2 linked regions of the Homo sapiens genome follow. The protein of the gene in region 1 purifies or fractionates together with the protein of each later gene. This does not show direct contact. Each region holds a gene or a part of one and is shown in the gene's direction. Other genes may lie near its edges.

The links.
Region 2: the proteins of NR1D1 (region 1) and SPSB4 purify together in Homo sapiens (affinity purification with western blotting; 2 studies listed by BioGRID and IntAct, with this or other methods). This does not show direct contact.

The regions. Positions count from the first base shown.
Region 1 is NC_000017.11:40,094,696-40,097,661, reverse strand, and holds part of NR1D1 (nuclear receptor subfamily 1 group D member 1), read left to right. Parts: intron 1-258; coding exon 259-597; intron 598-882; coding exon 883-971; intron 972-1,074; coding exon 1,075-1,219; intron 1,220-1,574; coding exon 1,575-2,218; intron 2,219-2,541; coding exon 2,542-2,727; intron 2,728-2,966. UniProt on the Homo sapiens protein: Transcriptional repressor which coordinates circadian rhythm and metabolic pathways in a heme-dependent manner.
Region 2 is NC_000003.12:141,145,074-141,149,156, forward strand, and holds the end of SPSB4 (SPRY domain-containing SOCS box protein 4), read left to right. Parts: intron 1-2,068; coding exon 2,069-2,196; 3' UTR 2,197-3,538; downstream 3,539-4,083. UniProt on the Homo sapiens protein: Substrate recognition component of a SCF-like ECS (Elongin BC-CUL2/5-SOCS-box protein) E3 ubiquitin-protein ligase complex which mediates the ubiquitination and subsequent proteasomal degradation of target proteins.

The DNA.
Region 1 (2,966 bases):
TGCGAGATGCCACAGGGGTCATGCCTCATACTGAAAGCAGAAGCTGAAGGTGGCCTGCAAAGGGTCGTAGGTGTTGCTTGGCCATGCCATGTCTACTGTGTGTTGGGGAATTGCTTATTAACTCCAAGATTAGGGGCTCCACATGGTGAACTGAGTGGCCAGCAATGTTTTGGGCAGACAGGTGGGGATGAGCACAGTGGCACCCTAGGTCCGGAGACATGGCGGCTGACACCCCCTTTCCTTTTGTTCTCTCTCCAGGTGGCGTCATCACCTACATTGGCTCCAGTGGCTCCTCCCCAAGCCGCACCAGCCCTGAATCCCTCTATAGTGACAACTCCAATGGCAGCTTCCAGTCCCTGACCCAAGGCTGTCCCACCTACTTCCCACCATCCCCCACTGGCTCCCTCACCCAAGACCCGGCTCGCTCCTTTGGGAGCATTCCACCCAGCCTGAGTGATGACGGCTCCCCTTCTTCCTCATCTTCCTCGTCGTCATCCTCCTCCTCCTTCTATAATGGGAGCCCCCCTGGGAGTCTACAAGTGGCCATGGAGGACAGCAGCCGAGTGTCCCCCAGCAAGAGCACCAGCAACATCACCAGTGAGTACCTTTCCAGCTGATTCGGGGGAAGGGAAGCAGGCCAGGGCCAGATTGGGAATGGGTTTTTACGTGACACCAGTCTTGCCAGGACCTATTCTGGCTTCAGGGATTTCTCCTAGAGTGGCACCAGCCCCTCTTCAGCCCAGTTTTGTCACTCCAGTGCCCCTCAACACTGGAGTTCCTCCTTAGCTTTTCCCTCCCTGGATCTCCGGCCCAGAAAGCCTCCACACCTGTGGCCACTCAGCCTGGCCTCTCCTGCTCACCTGCTGCCCGTCTCTTCCACAGAGCTGAATGGCATGGTGTTACTGTGTAAAGTGTGTGGGGACGTTGCCTCGGGCTTCCACTACGGTGTGCACGCCTGCGAGGGCTGCAAGGTGAGGCGGACTGGGGGTAAGGGCAGGGGCAGGTGGCCCCCTCCCCCTGGACACAGAGGCCCAGCCATGATGGAGGTGGTCACTAACCACCCCTGCCCTCCAGGGCTTTTTCCGTCGGAGCATCCAGCAGAACATCCAGTACAAAAGGTGTCTGAAGAATGAGAATTGCTCCATCGTCCGCATCAATCGCAACCGCTGCCAGCAATGTCGCTTCAAGAAGTGTCTCTCTGTGGGCATGTCTCGAGACGGTGAGGCAGCATCCCCACATCCTCCCCCCTTCTTCCGCCCAAAGTTTCTGAATTAATCCTTCCCTTTAAAAAAGTCACAAATGGAGACACATCATACTGTGAATCACATGTGCCAGGGGATGTCCATCCTTCATTTGCTTGGGTCAACATATACTTCTATCCCATTGGTCCCTCGGGTCACCTCCTACCAGCAATCCCTCCTAGGGAAACCCCCTTGATGGGTGGGGACTTGCTGGTTTTAGTTTTGATGTGAAACCCCAAGCCTTCAGGGCCTTGCCCTTTCAGGAGGAAGGAAGGAAGAGAAGCACGTGAGCATGGTTGAGAACTTCCTGATGCTGTTCTCATCCTGTTGCAGCTGTGCGTTTTGGGCGCATCCCCAAACGAGAGAAGCAGCGGATGCTTGCTGAGATGCAGAGTGCCATGAACCTGGCCAACAACCAGTTGAGCAGCCAGTGCCCGCTGGAGACTTCACCCACCCAGCACCCCACCCCAGGCCCCATGGGCCCCTCGCCACCCCCTGCTCCGGTCCCCTCACCCCTGGTGGGCTTCTCCCAGTTTCCACAACAGCTGACGCCTCCCAGATCCCCAAGCCCTGAGCCCACAGTGGAGGATGTGATATCCCAGGTGGCCCGGGCCCATCGAGAGATCTTCACCTACGCCCATGACAAGCTGGGCAGCTCACCTGGCAACTTCAATGCCAACCATGCATCAGGTAGCCCTCCAGCCACCACCCCACATCGCTGGGAAAATCAGGGCTGCCCACCTGCCCCCAATGACAACAACACCTTGGCTGCCCAGCGTCATAACGAGGCCCTAAATGGTCTGCGCCAGGCTCCCTCCTCCTACCCTCCCACCTGGCCTCCTGGCCCTGCACACCACAGCTGCCACCAGTCCAACAGCAACGGGCACCGTCTATGCCCCACCCACGTGTATGCAGCCCCAGAAGGCAAGGCACCTGCCAACAGTCCCCGGCAGGGCAACTCAAAGAATGTTCTGCTGGTAAGGGCATGGGGGCGGGCGAGTGCGTTAAGAAGATTGGGGGGGCCTGGCAGAATGGACTTAGTGTAGGGCAGCTGGGGGTTCCTGGAGGCTGAGTGTGGGGATAGCATCTTCCCAGGAGAAAATGTCTTGCCTTGCAGTCTGGACTCTGCCTGGGAATCCCTAATCTCCACCTGGCACCTAATTGCTACTTTATCTGAAAGACCCATCCTTCAGGGCCACAGCCCCTAGCCCAGGCAGAATCTGGGGTCCAGCTCTGCTCGGGGCGTCCATCTGACCCAGCCTGGCTGACACTCCCCTCCTTCAATCTTTTCCTCCCCCAGGCATGTCCTATGAACATGTACCCGCATGGACGCAGTGGGCGAACGGTGCAGGAGATCTGGGAGGATTTCTCCATGAGCTTCACGCCCGCTGTGCGGGAGGTGGTAGAGTTTGCCAAACACATCCCGGGCTTCCGTGACCTTTCTCAGCATGACCAAGTCACCCTGCTTAAGGCTGGCACCTTTGAGGTGAGTGACCGTTTATGCTTCTGGTTTTTGTTTTTTTTGAGACAGAGTTTCGCTTGTCGCCCAGGCTGGAGTGCAATGGTGCGATCTCCACTCACTGCAACCTCCACCTCCTGGGTTCAAGCAATTCTCCTACCTCAGCCTTCCAAGTAGCTGGGATTACAGGTTCCCGCCACCACGCTTGGCTAATTTTTATATTTTTATTAGAGACAGGGTTTCGCCATGTTGGCCAGGCTGGTCTC
Region 2 (4,083 bases), on another chromosome or scaffold:
GAAAATAGGGCATGGCTGGGCTTCCCCTGTCCAGCCTCATTTTGTATGAGGATCGATATACTGTCTCCATATTTGACTATTCTGAAGATTTTGTACAAGTGGAATTATACAATAAAAATAATAATTATTTTAAAAAGAGAATACAAAAAATTAAAAAAAAAAAAAGATAAAAAAGAGGATACAGAGGTGAGTGTTTGGAGTCACTAGTGCTCCCTGCAGATAGCCTTGGGATCTGGCCTCAAGTGAAGGAGAGCTGGATGTACTCTTGTGCACAGCTTCCAAAGCATGCTCCCCAAGCCCCACTTTAATTTTAATGGCTCCCCTTATTAACTCTGCAGCTCAGGTAAATAAAAATTCCTATAAAACATATTCTCGACTCTTGACTACATTCCCATGTAAAAAGTACTTCACTGCAGGTTGTGATAAAAAAATGTTTGAAAGCTGCAGGCCTCGGGTGGATCTGTAGAGGGCCTTTCTCTGTGGTACTATTCCTATCACAACTCTTGTGTTAGTATTTACCACTCAACAGTTTTGTTGTATCTTAGTACATTATAGGATGTTTATGAAATATCATTTATTCTATTACCAAAAAAGTATTAAGATGCAGGTTCAGGCTTCCAGCATACTCCTGGAGGACTGGGGAAACCAGGCCTGTACAAACCATACCAGATGCCATGTGACCACCATCATCATCTTCCTTCCAGCTGATGCTAACTGATCAGCACTGTTCCTCTCCCCACAAACCTCCAGGCTGTCCTGTTTTATTCCTCCTTTGCCTTTGCCTGTTCTCTCTGCCTAGGATACCCTCCCCACCCTTATGTGCCTTTAACCCTCCTATTCACTCTTCAAAACCCCATTATGTGTCCTCTCTGTGAAGCTTTCAAACAGCTCTTCTATATAAGAAATTCCCAGTTTCTGTACCTGTATATTTAAGAATTATTGCATATATTACACTCTATTAAAATGATTCACCTATTTAAAATCCCAGATCATGAGCCTCCACCACCCCCCTACCTGCCCCCACCCTCTTCCAGAGCTGCCTCTGGTGCTAGCTTAGTTATCCCTGTATCCCCAGGGCTAATCAAAGGGCCTGGACCAGAATAAGAGCTTAATAAGGGGGTCTGCAATAAACCTAGTTAAAGTTGGTTTAACTGGTCCTATGTCCAGTGGTTCCATTATTTATGGATTTTAACTTACAAATTTTTCCAGAACTAGGTGCTGGAAGAAAATGTAACCCGCTGCTGACCATCAAGGAAAGCTATAGGGGAAGTTTCAGGGTTCACAGGCATTTCAGACAGCCTCTCAGAATCTAACCTGTTTGTAGAGGAAACCCCTCTGCAGATCCACCCAAGGCCACCAGCTTTTAAACATTTTCCATCATGACCTGAAGTGAGAAGTCCTTTTCACATTAAGACACACCAGGCCGGGCGCGGTGGCTCACGCCTGTAATCCCAGCACTTTGGGAGGCCGAGAAGGGCGATCACGAGGTCAGGAGATCGAGACCATCCTGGCTAACACAGTGAAAGCCCGTCTCTACTAAAAATACAAAAAATTAGCCGGGCTGGTGGCGGGTGCCTGTAGTCCCAGCTACTAGGGAGGCTGAGGCAGGAGAATGGCGTGAACCCAGGAGGCGGAGCTTGCAGTGAGCCCAGATTGTGCCACTGCACTCCAGCCTGGGCGACAGAGCAAGACTCCATCTAAAAAAAAAAAAAAAAGACACGCTGAACACCTACATCAGAGACCAGAGACAAGGCTTTCATGAAACAATATTTATCCTTGCTATGGGTATTGCTCCCATTTTCTCTTTTTTTAAAAAAAATTATGGCTGGTCACCACCCATTGAATTGATTTTGTGACTCTTTAGTCTCACTGGTTGCATTCCACAGTCTAATGAACACTCCTCTAGGCCTTCAGCTTATGTAACCAGAGAAATCTTCTCCAAGGAGAAGCCATTGACCCTGAAGGCCAGCTCAGAGGAGCAGGCAGGAGGCGGTATGCAGTGGGGGCTGGGATGAGAAGGTGCCAGGATGGCACAGGGCACACTCTAACTGCTTCCCTCTCATTGCAGCCGAGCCCCTGCCACTGATGGACCTGTGCCGGAGATCCATCCGCTCGGCCCTGGGCCGCCAGCGCCTGCAGGACATCAGCTCCCTGCCCCTGCCTCAGTCTCTCAAAAACTATCTGCAGTACCAGTGAGCCAAGCCTGATGGGCAGCACAGACACAGACACACACCGCAGGGCCCGACCCTCCTGTCATTCACAGTCCCATGGCACATAGGGGAAAGGATCTACCCTTCTCCTGGCTCCCCAGGACACTCAGTTCTTTCAAAGACCAGGATGTGGTACCAACTTTGGAAACGAAAGGTCTCTTGCCAACAGTATCTACTGCCCTCGAGGCAGCCCTCCCAAGTCAGACACCTCCTTCGGAGCCACAGAGAGCCTGGAGTCTGCACCTCCTGGAAATCCTGCCACCAACCAGGACACAGCAGCCACCGTATTGATCAGAGAGCCTGTTTCCTTATTCAAGAGAATGAATAAAACATTTAGGCAGGAGACTTTCTATTGTGTGCCCCGTTGCAGACAGGGCCAGGGAGAAATTAGCCAGTGCAGGGGGAAAATTGCCTCTGAATAATGAATGATGAAAGCCTGACGCCGTGCCCCTCCTGGCCCATACGCCTTGCCAGGGCGGCAGGATTGTCACACCGTTTTAGGACTCTGTGCCACTTTGAGAGACTGTTCCCAGGAGGCCCAACCGCAGACCTGGCAAGTGGACAGTGCAGTGTGGAGACACCTTCCGGCTTACCTCTTTGAACGTTGTTTACCTACCCCTTTCCACGTGCTCCCCTTCCCAGCCACTGACTCACAGTTCTCTGGATGCCCAGACACCTCTCTTCAGGGAAGATGAGTCTGACTGGTTTGCCCCAGGGAAGAGCATATCCTTACCATTATTTTAAGTAGCATTTGCATTTTAAAAGAGGAATGCGGAGAGGACAGTACTTAGTCCAAAGGTGCTAACGGGGGAACTGGGGGCATTGTGACACCCAAGTCTGATGTGTCCTGGGTTGGGGGGCCTTCCTGGAGTGTCAGGGTCTCTGGGCAACGTCCATTCAGGGTGCGGCATGGCTGTCACAAAGCTTTATTTGAGCAAATTATTTTTTCACTTTAGGAGACTTCTACAAGTTTGTTTCCTGTTTCAAATGTGTGTGTGATGTGCTGTTTATTTATCAGCTTGAGGTCCATGGGGGCAGCCTTGTGACTGGAAGGGTGGATATGGGAGACACATTCTCTACCTGCTCCGAGCCTGGTCCTCTCGCAGGAATGCTGCTGCTGCCTCCGCCGCCACTGCTGCTGCCACCTCTTATATGTTTCAGACACTCTCTGCCCAGACTCATTTTTAACTGGAAATCATCACAGCAGTGGGATATCAGAGCCCCAGACAGCACTGCCTCTTCCTCCCCACCCCACTGCCCCCACCTTAATGTGAATTTGACTGATGAATGAAGAGCGTTTCTAATAAAGTTTGTCATTCAGTCCTTCAGCTGCGTATTAAATGTTGTTTGGGGAGGGACCCAGAGAGCTTCTTCCATCAACCTGCCTGGTCCGTCAGACTGATAGAAGCCAGGCACGTGAATCCCTCTTTAGACATTTCTTGTCTCTTCTGACTTGTGGTCCTTGCTTGAGCCCAAACTCCAGCTATTTTGCAAAGGCCTGCCCTGGACAAGAGAATGTGCCTGTGTCCTGGGTACATGCAAAGCTGACCTTATGGTGGAGAAACAACTCAGCCTCCTGTTGCCAGAGCCAAGGGGTAGCCCTGCAAAGGGGCTTAGGGTCAGGCAGGGCAAACCCTATGGAACACCAGTTTCCAAGTGGACTGGAGGTGGGGCTGGATGTGACTGTAGTGAATGCATGTTGTCACCAAGGAGCAGTGCAAATTGTTGAAGCATGAGTGTAAAGAAAGGCCAGGCTCAGAGCTGATAGCAGTTCAGGAGTTAGAGTCAGGATAGGGTCTGGGTAAGGACTGGAATAGCATTCATTCAGCAGTACCAGCCAACAGCATGCGCTGTGCCAATTTCCAGGGACCCA